Linked DNA regions of Homo sapiens. The gene in region 1 interacts genetically with each later gene. Each region holds a gene or a part of one and is shown in the gene's direction. Other genes may lie near its edges.

What was found. Genes that interact genetically often act in the same process or in processes that back each other up.
Region 2: of MPP1 (region 1) and ABCC4, changing one enhances a phenotype caused by changing the other (phenotypic enhancement), as found in Homo sapiens cells (one study listed by BioGRID).

The regions. Positions count from the first base shown.
Region 1 is NC_000023.11:154,802,449-154,809,668, reverse strand, and holds the start of MPP1 (55 kDa erythrocyte membrane protein), read left to right. Parts: upstream 1-4,183; 5' UTR 4,184-4,295; coding exon 4,296-4,397; intron 4,398-4,841; exon of another isoform or gene 4,842-4,972; intron 4,973-7,220. UniProt on the Homo sapiens protein: Essential regulator of neutrophil polarity. Regulates neutrophil polarization by regulating AKT1 phosphorylation through a mechanism that is independent of PIK3CG activity.
Region 2 is NC_000013.11:95,019,334-95,025,488, reverse strand, and holds the end of ABCC4 (ATP-binding cassette sub-family C member 4), read left to right. Parts: intron 1-3,806; coding exon 3,807-3,914; 3' UTR 3,915-5,654; downstream 5,655-6,155. UniProt on the Homo sapiens protein: ATP-dependent transporter of the ATP-binding cassette (ABC) family that actively extrudes physiological compounds and xenobiotics from cells.

The DNA.
Region 1 (7,220 bases):
ACCCTTTCCCCCGAGTCCCCAAAGTCCATAGTATAATTCTTATGCCTTTTGTCCTCATAGCTTAGCTCCCACTTATAAGTGAGAACATACAATATTTGGTTTTCCATTCCTGAGTTATTTCACTTAGAATAGTGGTCTCCAACTCCATCTGTGAGTTGCCATTATTTTGTTCCTTTTTATGGCTGAGTAGTGTTCCATGGTGTATATATACCATATTTTCTTTATCCATTTGTTGGTTGATGGGCATTTAGACTGGTTCCATATCTTTGCAATTGCAAATTGTGCTGCTATAAACATGTATGTACAAGTGTCTTTTTCAAATAATGACTTCTTTTCCTCTGGGTAGATACCCAGTAGTGGGATTGCTGGATCAAATGGTAGTTCTACTTGTAGTTCTTTAAGAAATCTCGGTACTGTTTTCCACAGTGGTTGTACTAGTTTCCATTCCCACCAGCAGTGTCAAAGTGTTCTCTTTTCACCACATTCACACCAACATTTATTCTTTTTTGATTTTTTTTTATTATGGCCATTCTTGCAGGAGTAAGGTGGCATCTCATTGTGGTTTTAATTTGCATTTCCCTGATAATTAGTGATGTTGAACAGTTTTTCGTATGTTTATTGGCCATTTGTATATTTTGAGAATTGTCTATTCATTCCTTTGCCCACTTTTTGATGGGGTTATTTTTTTCTTGCTGATTTGTTTGAGTTCCTTGTAGATTCTGGATATTAGTCCTTTGTCATCAGATGCATGGTTTGCAAATATTTTCTCTCATTCTGTGGGTTGTCTGTTTACTCTGCTGATTATTTCTTTTGCTGTGCAGAGGCTTTTCAGTTTAATCAGGTCCCACCTATTTATTTTTGTTTTTGTTGCATTTGCTTTTGGGTTCTTGGTCACGAACTCTTTGCCTAAGCCAATGTCTAGAATAGCTTTGCCAGTGTTATCTCCTAGAATTTTTATGGTTTCAGGTGTTAGATTTAAATCTTAGATCCATCTGGAGTTGATTTTTGTACAAGGCGAGGGATGAGGATCCAGTTTCAATTATCTACATGTGGCGTGCCAATTTTCCCAGCACCATTCGTTGAACAGGGTGTCCTTTCCCCATTTTATGTTTTTGTTTGTTATGTCAAAGATCAGTTGTTTGTATTTGGCTTTATTTCTGTGTTCTGTATTTTGTTCCATTGGTCTACATGCCTATTTTTATACCAGTACCACGCTGTTTTGGTAACTACGGCCTTGTAGTATAGTTTGAAGTCGGGTAATGTGACCTTAGATTGTCTATTTGTGCTGTTTTAGACTTTTTGATATGGGCATTTAATGCTATGAATCTTCCTCTTAGCACCACTTTTGCTGTATCCCAGAAGTTTTGATAAGTTGTGTCACTATTATCATTCAGCTCAAAGAAATTTTTGATTTCCATCTTGATTTCATTGTTGACCCAAATACCATTCAAGAGCAGATTATTTAATGTCCATGTATTTGTATAGCAAAAGTCCTATCCTGAGGGTCTGTTTTCTGAGGCCACCCCATTTCTGACACCTGTTTTCTTAGCCTATGTTTGGTAGAAAGCAAAGCCTGGAGCAAAACATATGTGGTAAATCTTTAGTGAAGGATGCAATCCCATGGGTGTAAGAGTGAGGGAATAAATGAAGTGAGGTAGGGAAGGATGGAAACAAAATATACTTTGGTGTGCTACTGAGTTCGCCACTGTTACTCAAGAAAACACAGCTTATCTCACAGTCTTCCTGAATGCTTCCAGAAGAGTTGTATAGAATCACACCATCTTGAAATGGTTGAGGAAAGGAATTGATCTGCCTACGGGTGTTTGTCTCATTTCTGTCAGTGGTCAAAGTTCACCCTATTAGGTGTTTGTTAGTTTCCTCACACCTCTGAGTTGTGTTACCTTGGTCCTGGTAGTCAGTAGGAAAGCCAGATCCCACACACCACAGTTCAATCCTGAATCCAAAAGTGGTAGGAGTCATCAGAGCCTCCATGGATCTGGTCAGGATGAGCTTGAGTGCAGAAGCTCCTGCTGCAGTGAGTGCAGTAGAGGTCATTTCAGAACCTAGCCCTCACTTTAGAAAAGTGAAGGAGTCAGAAGTGTCAGGAGATGTGAAAACGTCAGTGGCAGTCAGGGATTTCCATTGATCAAGTGCCTGATCGCCTGGGAAGTAGATAAGGCTGAGAAAATATGGAAGGAGTATAAATTGGAGCAAGGCCATCCATACTATGGTTTTCGTACCTGGACAAACAAGGCAACTCTAGTCCTGAATATTTTGCAGATGCACAGAGGGAGACCTGGAAGGTTACAGACCAAACTGGGAATAGTTGTTCCCTCTAGGAGCAGAATTGCTGGCTCAGAGGGTAGATGTATGTTCAACTGTAAGAGATAATGGAAACCCGTTTTCCTTACAACTGGTACCAATTTAGACTCCCACCAGCAATATTCAATAAATCATATGGATTCACATCCTCCCCAACACTTGGTACTGTTAGACTTTTAAATTTTTGACAACTGAATGGGTGAACAGTGGTATTTCATTGTAGTTTTGCTTTGCATTTTCCTGATCACTAATGATGTCGAACATCTCTTTATATGTATGTTTATTGGCCATATGCGTCTCTCTGTTGGTGAAATGCCTATTCATGTGTTTTGCCCACTTCTTTACTGGATTGTGTTTTTCTTAATAATTTGTAGTCCTTTATATATTCGCAATTGGAATTCCTTGCCACTTATCTGTATTGAAAATATTTTCTCCCAATGCACAGCTGTGTTTTTTGCTCTTTATGGTGTCTTCATAAATTAAAATTCTTAAAGTCAAAGTTACCACTATTCCATTCTATGGTCAATGGTTTGTCTACATTGTTTAGAAATCTGTATCCCAAAGTCTAAAAGTTCCTTGCCTATGTTTCCTGTCAAGAGCTTTAAGGGTATGTTTTTGACATTTAATTCCTTAATCCATCTGGAATAGATTATTATTATTTTCCATATCACATGAATGAGGATTCCAATTTCATCTTTTCCAATATAAATAACCATTTTCCAGCGTCAGTTAATAAAATGTCCCTGTTTACTTACCTAACATGCCACTTCTATCATATACCACATTTCTATACTTGCATGGTTGCGTTTCGGGGTTCTCTATTCTATGCCATTGCTCAATTAATCTATCCATGCCTCAATATCACAGTCTTAATTTCAATCTCTCCCCCCCCACCCCACCCCCCCCTCCCCCCCCGTTCGTTTAGAGTGATCTTGAGGAAGGGAACCGTCATTCACATGAGTTCGGCCTCTTGGTAGAGAAAACTGGGCAATGCAGCTCTAAACTGTTGCCCTTGGATTTTCTCCTCTTGGCTATGAGCTCCTCCTTCCCAGGAAGCTTTGAGGAAGGTCAGAATAAGATTACATGTAGTGATGAACTGCTTCTAATACTGTGAGGCTACTAGCTTGGGGTAGGGGACCAAGAGCCGTACAAGCCCATTAAATGTTTGTTTTGTTCAGAAAGCCTTCCATCGCTGTGACTGGTGTTTGAATGTCTCCAATGCGTTAGGATGCTAAGGAATCCTCCTCTAGGGTTACTAAGGAATGTTTGCTGCCTTTGCTTTCGCTGAGCCGGAAAAATTTTGTGGCATTTACAGCAGGAGATCTGCCCTAAGTAAAAACAGTTTGGTTTTGAAGGCAATAAGATGTTTCATCATCAAACAGCACACAACAATTAAATGACAGGGTGCAGCAGCACAGCAGCCTTAAAGGCATTTTCGCAATGTCCAGATCTCAAAGGGTAATGCTGCGCCCGCATCAATTTATGGGAAGAGTCTAGAGTTCACCTACATCTTTTGAACTCCACTAAGCCGGCCGATTCTGATTTCCCTTGTTGCCTCCCTGCAATCCCCACGAATTTGGCCAGGGCACCCGGGCGGCTCAGGCCCAACGGGGCGTGGGCCGTGTGCTCAACCACCCAGAAGCTGGGGGCCCCCTCCCCTTTCTTATCTTTCTGGCATTCATCTCACGCGGCCACCTACAGCTACGACTTCCTCAGGCCCTTTAAGGGCCGCTTCTCGGAGCGCAGGGAGCCGCGGAGTCCGGGGCGTGGGAGACTTCCATGGGCGGAGCGAGGGCAGGAGTGGGCGGGCCGTAGGCGGAGCTCCGTCCGCGCCCTCCCGGCGCACCGCCTGCGGGGCGGTGACTGGCCCAGCCGCACCGCGTCTCCCGCCTTCTCCGCAGCCCCGCAGGCCCCGGGCCCTGTCATTCCCAGCGCTGCCCTGTCTTGCGTTCCAGTGTTCCAGCTTCTGCGAGATGACCCTCAAGGCGAGCGAGGGCGAGAGTGGGGGCAGCATGCACACGGCGCTCTCCGACCTCTACCTGGAGCATTTGCTGCAGAAGCGTAGTCGGCCAGAGGTGAGCGGGCCCCGCTAGTCCCAAGGGCGCTGGGCCGGGGCTCGGCCATTCATCTCGGGACTTTCCCTGTCCCGGTCCCTGTCCCCGGGGGGCCTGTCCTTGCGGGTCCTGGCCATAGGTCGGAGACCGCGATAGCCGGCGGGGTGAGGACAAGGCCAGCGCGCGGCCGGGTTCGTACCGGGCTGCTGGTGCAGTGGATCCTTGCCCCCAGCAGTCCTTCCAGTTGGAAATCAGGAGAGGCAGCGGCCTGGACAGTGCGCTTATTAAGGGCAAGGAAAACTTCCTCGTGGACGGAAGTCAGAGTAACAGAAAGTCTTTAAGGAACACATCAAGGAGTAGGTCTGCCTGGTTGTTGTTGAAGTGCTTGTGTTTGGGTCAGCAGAAATGATTGTAAAAGCCAGCTTCTGGTTCTAAAGAGCTCACTCACTGTTCCTCTTCATTTAGGCAGGTCCCCTTGTGCTATGGTGCAAAGAGGGTGGCCAGTGTATATTTGCGGGTGGAACAAGGAATCCAGATTCCAGGGATGGATGGCTGGTAAATAGCTATTAACCTCCGTCCTCAAAGATGCCCTAAGGGTAGGTTGTGCTTATCTGTTACTGGCAAATCTCTCCCAAACTCGCTGGTTTACAACACTGAGCATTTTCTTGTCTCTCATATTTCGTTTTGATTGGGCCCAGCAAGGTGGTCGTCACTCAGGGTCTGTCAGGTGGGGACACGGCTCACTTACTCATTTGGAGCCATGAGCCATGAGCCAGAAAATCAACCAGCAGCCTCTCCCTGTGGCTTGGTCTTCCTCACAGCATGCTGGCCAGGTCCCAAGGGGAAAATGTCCAGAGAGAACCAGAGAGCCAGGCAGAAGCTCAGAAGTCACAGCATGAACCTCCTTCCTAGACTGCAAGGTCTTCTAGGGCAGGGCCGTGTCATACTCACTTCTTTAAGTGCCCAATAAGTGGGTCCTCAGAAATGTTTGCTAAATTAATAAATGACTGAAGAGATGGACATTTGGGATTTACAGTAACCCTCCGATTTCACAGATGAAAAAACTGAAGGTCCCTGCAACATAAGGCAAGCAGTAGAGCTGTAGACTCTTTGGGCTAAGTGGCATTAACTCAAGGAAACAAGTAATGGGCATCAGAACTGAGGCTAGATTTTGTGTCTGCTGCACCGCATTGCCTTACCCTTTATATTCCACTCGAGTGAGGCATTCACACCTGCCTGTCATTTCAAATCAGGATTGCAACAGCCTGAGTTTAAATGAGTGCAGAAATAATACAGGCATGAAAGATGCTATTGTTATACAGATGATGAGACAAAATTACAAGTTCTGTTACCTGATTCCCCATAAACTTGGACTTGTGATTTTTTTCTTCCCCACAATCAGTACTCACTTGGCTGAGCCTCAACTATTTTTAAAAAATCTATTTATTTCTGGAAGTCTTATTGAGGTACACTTAGCATACAGTAGAATTCATGAAATTTAATTGTGTAGTTTGATGACATTTGACAGATGTATATAGTCATGTAACGACAACCACAATCATGACAAAGAATAAACATTTTCAAGGTTCCAGGAAGTTCCCCTGTGACCCTTGGCAGTCAGTCACCTTCCTCCACCTGGAACATGGCAACCACTGATCTGTCACTATAGATTTGCCTTTTCTGGAATTTTATATAAATAGAATCCTACAGTATGATGTATTTTGTGTCGGGGTTCTTATGTAAACCTATGTGTTCCCTTATGGGCATGCTTGAAAGACTGTGCCTTTTTGAAAAGAGGCCCTGTCACCACCAGTGTTATGTTGTGGGCACAACCTCTGAGTAAACAGCACGTTTTGTGGGGCTGTGAGTTTATACTGTAATATTGGAGATAGTCTACCAGTTAGCTAATTTGTTTGGTTTTTACTAACGGATTTGAAGAAGATCAAATAAGAAAACTTACTGAATCCCTGAATGAAATAGTATCCAGCTGTGCCAAAGTGAGCATCTGAGGGAGACTCTTCACACGATGAAGTGTGGCTTGACTCCACAACCTGCGGATTCTTATTTCTTTAGGTTCACCTTCCCTTTGGGGCTCTTACCAGTCTTTGCTGCAGCAGCAAGCTCTGCCTTTCACTTGCTGCATGGTTTTGGGCAAGCTGCTGAAGCTCTCTGTGCCTTAGGTTTCTCTCCTTTATGAAACTGGCAAGTTTGGAAGGTTGTGGCAACATTTACATGAGATAATGCTTGACAAGGACCTTGAGCCACACTGGGACATCCAGGGTAATGACCCAGTATCTCCCTAGGAGCTGCCTGCCCAGTAGTAGCAGTCAGAAAGTTTTCCTATAATGGCAAGATTTGAAGCAGGAAAACCTGTGAGGAAGTTGTTGGCTTCAATAGAAATTATAAAATTATTTTGCTGAAAGTTTCATTTAAAGGTGTCACTTTATGGAAAAAGGCTACCGATTCAAAACAAAGTTTCACTTCCAATTATAATCCACATTTAATACTGAAAGAATATTGTCTAAAGGTAATTTTGCAATAGGTTTGAATGTAGCCTATCTCCCCTATTTAAGTATATCTCCTTCCTTGGATAAACTAATTTTTTTTTTCTTTTCAATGTGGTCTAGGCAGGTTAATGGAGAAACTAATTTTATTAGCTCTCTCTGGCCTTGTTCTTCACAGCAGTATCCATTAATGCACATAAAAGTAGTTGTAAAATTCCCAATACTGCTTTTCTCTTCGGGCCTGTTTGAAGCAACACTTTCCCCAGGACCTGAAGCAATTGGTTGAGAATCCCTGAAAATTCTCTTGGGCCTATCCCACATCAAAAAAAAATCACCTAAC
Region 2 (6,155 bases), on another chromosome or scaffold:
AGTGTGTATGTGTATGGGTGTGTGGGTGTGTGGGTGTGTGTGTGGGTGTCAGGGGATGTGGGTGTGTATGGGTGTGTGGTGGGGGTATGTGTGTGGGGGTGGGAGGGTGTGTGTGGGGTGTGGGTGTGTGTGGGGGTGTGGGTGTGTGTATGGGTGTGTGGGTGTGGGTGTGTGTGGGGGGTGGGCGTATGTGGGTGTGTGTGGGGGTGTGTGTGGGGGTGTGGGGGTGTGTGTGTGTGTGGGTGTGTGTGTATGGGTGTGTGTGGGGGTGTGTGGGGGGTGTGGGGGTGTGTGGTGTGGGTGTGTGTGGGTGTGTGTGTGTATGTGAAATTGAGAGTGCATGTTTTGCCTTTCTTCCTCCTTAGCTTACAGAATTGGGCAATTGCAATCTGTCTTCTGTCAGGACCTCACCAATGTACATAGGTCAGTCAAAGATGTTTCTAATTGATTCTTTATTGACATACCTTAGCGCTCCTCCAATTAACTGGAGAATTCCTATGATTGTTGAGGCTTGCTCTTCATAGACATCTTCTCAGCCTTGCCACAGCCCCATTGGTTCCAGTTGCATATGGCAGCCCTTCATGATATTTTACCATTCAGGCTCTCCTGATTTCACAAAGATTTAGCTTATTTTTTATTAATGAATATCTTTGATGTTCAGAGTGGTTTCTGAAAGGAAAAGGAGAGGAAATTCATTACTCCATTATATTAAAAGCAGAAGTCCTTTCTAAGTCTCCATTACTCTTTGACAATATGCATGCCAATTATGTACACCAAAATTAGACTGGCTTTAAAAATGATGAACTTGAGGCCTTGAGAGTTACTGTGATTGAATTAGGGCCATACACATCAGTAAAAATGAACTGACAGGGTCTTGAGCCTGAATTCAACACATCAGATGGTATCTTAGGAATGCAATGTCAATCAAAGCCCAGTTGCTCTCCTTTGTCCACGTGCGGGAGCTTGTATTGCTCTGTTGATTTTAGTAAAATCTAGCTCTGTTACGGTGGCTTTACTGATGAGTTAGAGTTTAAATATGAACTTAGTTTCAACCTACATTAGAGGAACTATAATGGAGCAAACTCAAGAGAAGAAGGAAAAGAGGGACAAGGTTTCCCATACTCACTGACCTGATACTCTTCTTGCCGCAAACGTGAACGCTTATGGCATTGTCTCCCTTAAGCTTCACAGTCCTTCTGAACTGCTGTTATTATCCCCTTTTGACACATGAAAATGCTAAAGTACAAGAAGCTGAGTAACTTTTTTTTTTTTTTTTTTTTTTGAGACAGTCTCTCACTCTGTCACCCAGGCTGGAGTGTAGTGTTGCAGTCTCGGCTCACTGCAATCTCTGCCTCCTGGGTTCAAGTGATTCTCCTGCCTCAGCCTCCCGAGTAGCTGGGACTACAAGCGTGCACCACCATGCCTGGCTAATTTTTGTATTTTTCGTAGAGATGGGGTTTCACCATGTTGGCCAGGCTGGTCTCAAACTCCTGACCTCAAGTGATCCACCTGCCTTGGCCTCCCAAACTGCTGAGATTACAGGTGTGAGCCACCACGCCCAGCCTGAGTAAGTTTTCAAAGCCACCAGTTCAAAAGTGTTCATACTCCATCTTCTATGATCTTTCAGTTCTACCTTTCTGCCTCCCAGGTTACCATATTCATTCAGTTGAAATTGTCTCAGCCACAGCTTTGGGATTCTGTAAAGATAAAAGATGCACCAGAGGGATTCCTAAATGCTTTGTCTTCATCCTTCGAGCTGGGCGATACCTCCACGTTCTGTGTGCTTAGGGGCCACTTCTCTGAGCAGCATTCATCATGACACCCAACACTAATGCAGCAGGTTTTCAACCTGTAGTTTGTAGCCATTAATCAGTTCCTGTGACGTAAGCTATTGTTATCTCATGTTACAGATGAGGCAGCTGGTAGAGAGAGTGGTTAGGTAATTTTTCCAGAATCAGCAGTGAATCCAGGAGAGAGCTGAGACTGGACCTGTCTATCCCAGACATAGCTTACAACATGAGGGCTTTGCTAAAAGTAGTTCAGTAATCTCAACTCCCTTCATCACCTGCACTGTAAAAAAGATGTTTCATCTCACCTGTGCTGTTACCCATAGTGTGTTATAAAACCTGGTAGCAGAAGAGAAAAAGAAAGGTCAAATCAAAGAATATATACACAGGAAGTTTGTTTTTGACTAAGTATTTCAGACCATGAAGCTAAGACCATTTGGGTTTAAAGTTGCTAATAACAACACTTTCTTTATATATATTTAAAAAAATACATCAAGAGGGTTACACAGAAGGAAGCAGCCTATTTGGGGAAGGCTATCAAGCAGTAGAAAGTGATGTGAATGTCTATTTGTTCTTTTGGCTGTTTTTAGTTTCACTACAGAATAGCCTTTTTGGAGTACATAAATCTATAACCACACAAAATATGGCTAGCTTAAAAAAGTGGGAGAGGGAGATGATATGAAATTATCCCCTGAAAAGTCTTACTTTTGAACACTTGCATTATAATGGAAATAGCCTCAGATTTCTTCTGGTGGCATTCCAGCATTATTGGACAATTTATTTTCTCCTTAAGTGACATTTTAGTACATTGTGTGTTATATGTAATGATATTTCTGGAGTAACAAGTGTGCAAGAAGTGAGAGAAAAAGAAAGTACACTTAATATGTAGGCAGGTGTCTCAGCACTTTCTTTTTTGTACGTGAATCCCATTATCTCCAGTGATAACTTTGTTGACAGCACCCACCAATATATTCAGAGCAAGGTTTTATAAAATAGATCCAGAATCGTATGACTAAGAGACCCAGGTGACACGTGTCAGCCTCAGATAGTTGCTACATTTTCTGTTTTAAAGATTCAAACAAAACTTTTCACATTCTTCTTTGGGGAAAAAAAATTACATTTGAAGTCCTTTTTCACCCAAACACGTTTTGAGATAAGAGCTCACAAGTCTTGACATTATTTCATTTTGTTATGCGCATCTGTCAAGGAACCAAGATACGATACAGCTACTAAAAACTGATGATTGTGGAACAGAGAAACTTGACAGCATTTCATTTCCTTTATGTTCTGATTATACGTTTATCAGAAAACCTGTATCTCTTCTAGTTCAGCTAGAAATTGGTAGAATTCAGGAACTCAAAGGCTTGGCAAAGAACTGTCCTATTATTTGGTATCATCTTACATTTTAGAGAAGTTGCTTGGTTGAGTCATTGTTAAAGCTTTTGCTTCTCTTTTCATTATTGTGGGCCACTATCCACAGACCACATTTCTATAGGCCCTATAACTGCTTTGCCGCACAAATTAAACGCCGGGATGTTTCATACGTATATGCCAGCATTTCAATGCTTGTCAATCAGAGTTTATAAAATATAGGGATTACAACTTGATATTAACATCCAAATCTATTGTGCTCATTTTACGTGTGAAAATGAGAAACCCTCATGCAGACGCTAGATTTCCCAGCCTCTTTGTCACCCTGTTTTTAATTTATCTCCAGGTTTTGAGTCAGTAAAATGATTCCGCTTATCAATTTAATACAGAGATAAAACATATCTATGAATCAGAGTGATCGGAACTAAAATGGATCTACAGGTTGTTTGGCATTCAGCCCAGCCCTGCTGAGGGTTTTAGTGGGGCTAATTTCTCTGTACAGTAGATTCATCCCTGTTCTTAAATTGTGCCTCAGTGAGGGATATGATTTGCTTCACATGAAGAAGTAGACACAGAAGTGCATTGTTTCAGGGAGGAGACTTTAAAATTTTGAAACATTCTTTTTATGCTTACCTTTTTTTTTTCTAGGTATACTTCAAAAGAAATTATCCACATATTGGTCACACTGACCACATGGTTACAAACACTTCCAATGGACAGCCCTCGACCTTAACTATTTTCGAGACAGCACTGTGAATCCAACCAAAATGTCAAGTCCGTTCCGAAGGCATTTTCCACTAGTTTTTGGACTATGTAAACCACATTGTACTTTTTTTTACTTTGGCAACAAATATTTATACATACAAGATGCTAGTTCATTTGAATATTTCTCCCAACTTATCCAAGGATCTCCAGCTCTAACAAAATGGTTTATTTTTATTTAAATGTCAATAGTTGTTTTTTAAAATCCAAATCAGAGGTGCAGGCCACCAGTTAAATGCCGTCTATCAGGTTTTGTGCCTTAAGAGACTACAGAGTCAAAGCTCATTTTTAAAGGAGTAGGACAAAGTTGTCACAGGTTTTTGTTGTTGTTTTTATTGCCCCCAAAATTACATGTTAATTTCCATTTATATCAGGGATTCTATTTACTTGAAGACTGTGAAGTTGCCATTTTGTCTCATTGTTTTCTTTGACATAACTAGGATCCATTATTTCCCCTGAAGGCTTCTTGTTAGAAAATAGTACAGTTACAACCAATAGGAACAACAAAAAGAAAAAGTTTGTGACATTGTAGTAGGGAGTGTGTACCCCTTACTCCCCATCAAAAAAAAAAATGGATACATGGTTAAAGGATAGAAGGGCAATATTTTATCATATGTTCTAAAAGAGAAGGAAGAGAAAATACTACTTTCTCAAAATGGAAGCCCTTAAAGGTGCTTTGATACTGAAGGACACAAATGTGACCGTCCATCCTCCTTTAGAGTTGCATGACTTGGACACGGTAACTGTTGCAGTTTTAGACTCAGCATTGTGACACTTCCCAAGAAGGCCAAACCTCTAACCGACATTCCTGAAATACGTGGCATTATTCTTTTTTGGATTTCTCATTTATGGAAGGCTAACCCTCTGTTGACTGTAAGCCTTTTGGTTTGGGCTGTATTGAAATCCTTTCTAAATTGCATGAATAGGCTCTGCTAACGTGATGAGACAAACTGAAAATTATTGCAAGCATTGACTATAATTATGCAGTACGTTCTCAGGATGCATCCAGGGGTTCATTTTCATGAGCCTGTCCAGGTTAGTTTACTCCTGACCACTAATAGCATTGTCATTTGGGCTTTCTGTTGAATGAATCAACAAACCACAATACTTCCTGGGACCTTTTGTACTTTATTTGAACTATGAGTCTTTAATTTTTCCTGATGATGGTGGCTGTAATATGTTGAGTTCAGTTTACTAAAGGTTTTACTATTATGGTTTGAAGTGGAGTCTCATGACCTCTCAGAATAAGGTGTCACCTCCCTGAAATTGCATATATGTATATAGACATGCACACGTGTGCATTTGTTTGTATACATATATTTGTCCTTCGTATAGCAAGTTTTTTGCTCATCAGCAGAGAGCAACAGATGTTTTATTGAGTGAAGCCTTAAAAAGCACACACCACACACAGCTAACTGCCAAAATACATTGACCGTAGTAGCTGTTCAACTCCTAGTACTTAGAAATACACGTATGGTTAATGTTCAGTCCAACAAACCACACACAGTAAATGTTTATTAATAGTCATGGTTCGTATTTTAGGTGACTGAAATTGCATCAGTGATCATAATGAGGTTTGTTAAAACGATAGCTATATTCAAAATGTCTATATGTTTATTTGGACTTTTGAGGTTAAAGACAGTCATATAAACGTCCTGTTTCTGTTTTAATGTTATCATAGAATTTTTTAATGAAACTAAATTCAATTGAAATAAATGATAGTTTTCATCTCCATTCAGAGATCTGTATTTCTGTGCTTCAAGGGATTCCTGACTCATGTTCTTGCTGATGAATGCCAGTGAGTTTTCCTGAGATCGAAAAATACAGTATCAAAGGATACCTTCTATCATCAACCGGTTCTCTTGGCAAATTAGGTGTACCAAGTATTCTAACGGGTAGATTTCAGTGGGTTTCAGACAGTTTGAAGCAGTTGCTATTTAAGCAAGTCCATTTGCACCATTCTAGGAAGAAAGAGTATTAGCTTATGCCTCAGGCTTGAGCAGTATTAAATGGTTGAGGTTTTTGCTTTTGGTTTTGGTTTTTAAGGTGACTTTGTCCAAAACTAACAAGAAACATCTACCGCTGTTACGCTGAAATCACTATTAAATAATGATTCTCAAAGTGTGGTCCCTGGACCAGCAGCATACCGCATCACCTGGGAACTCGTTAGAAATGCACCTTTTTGTGCCTCACCGCAGATCTACTGAATCAGAAACTCTGGTGGTGGGGGCCAGG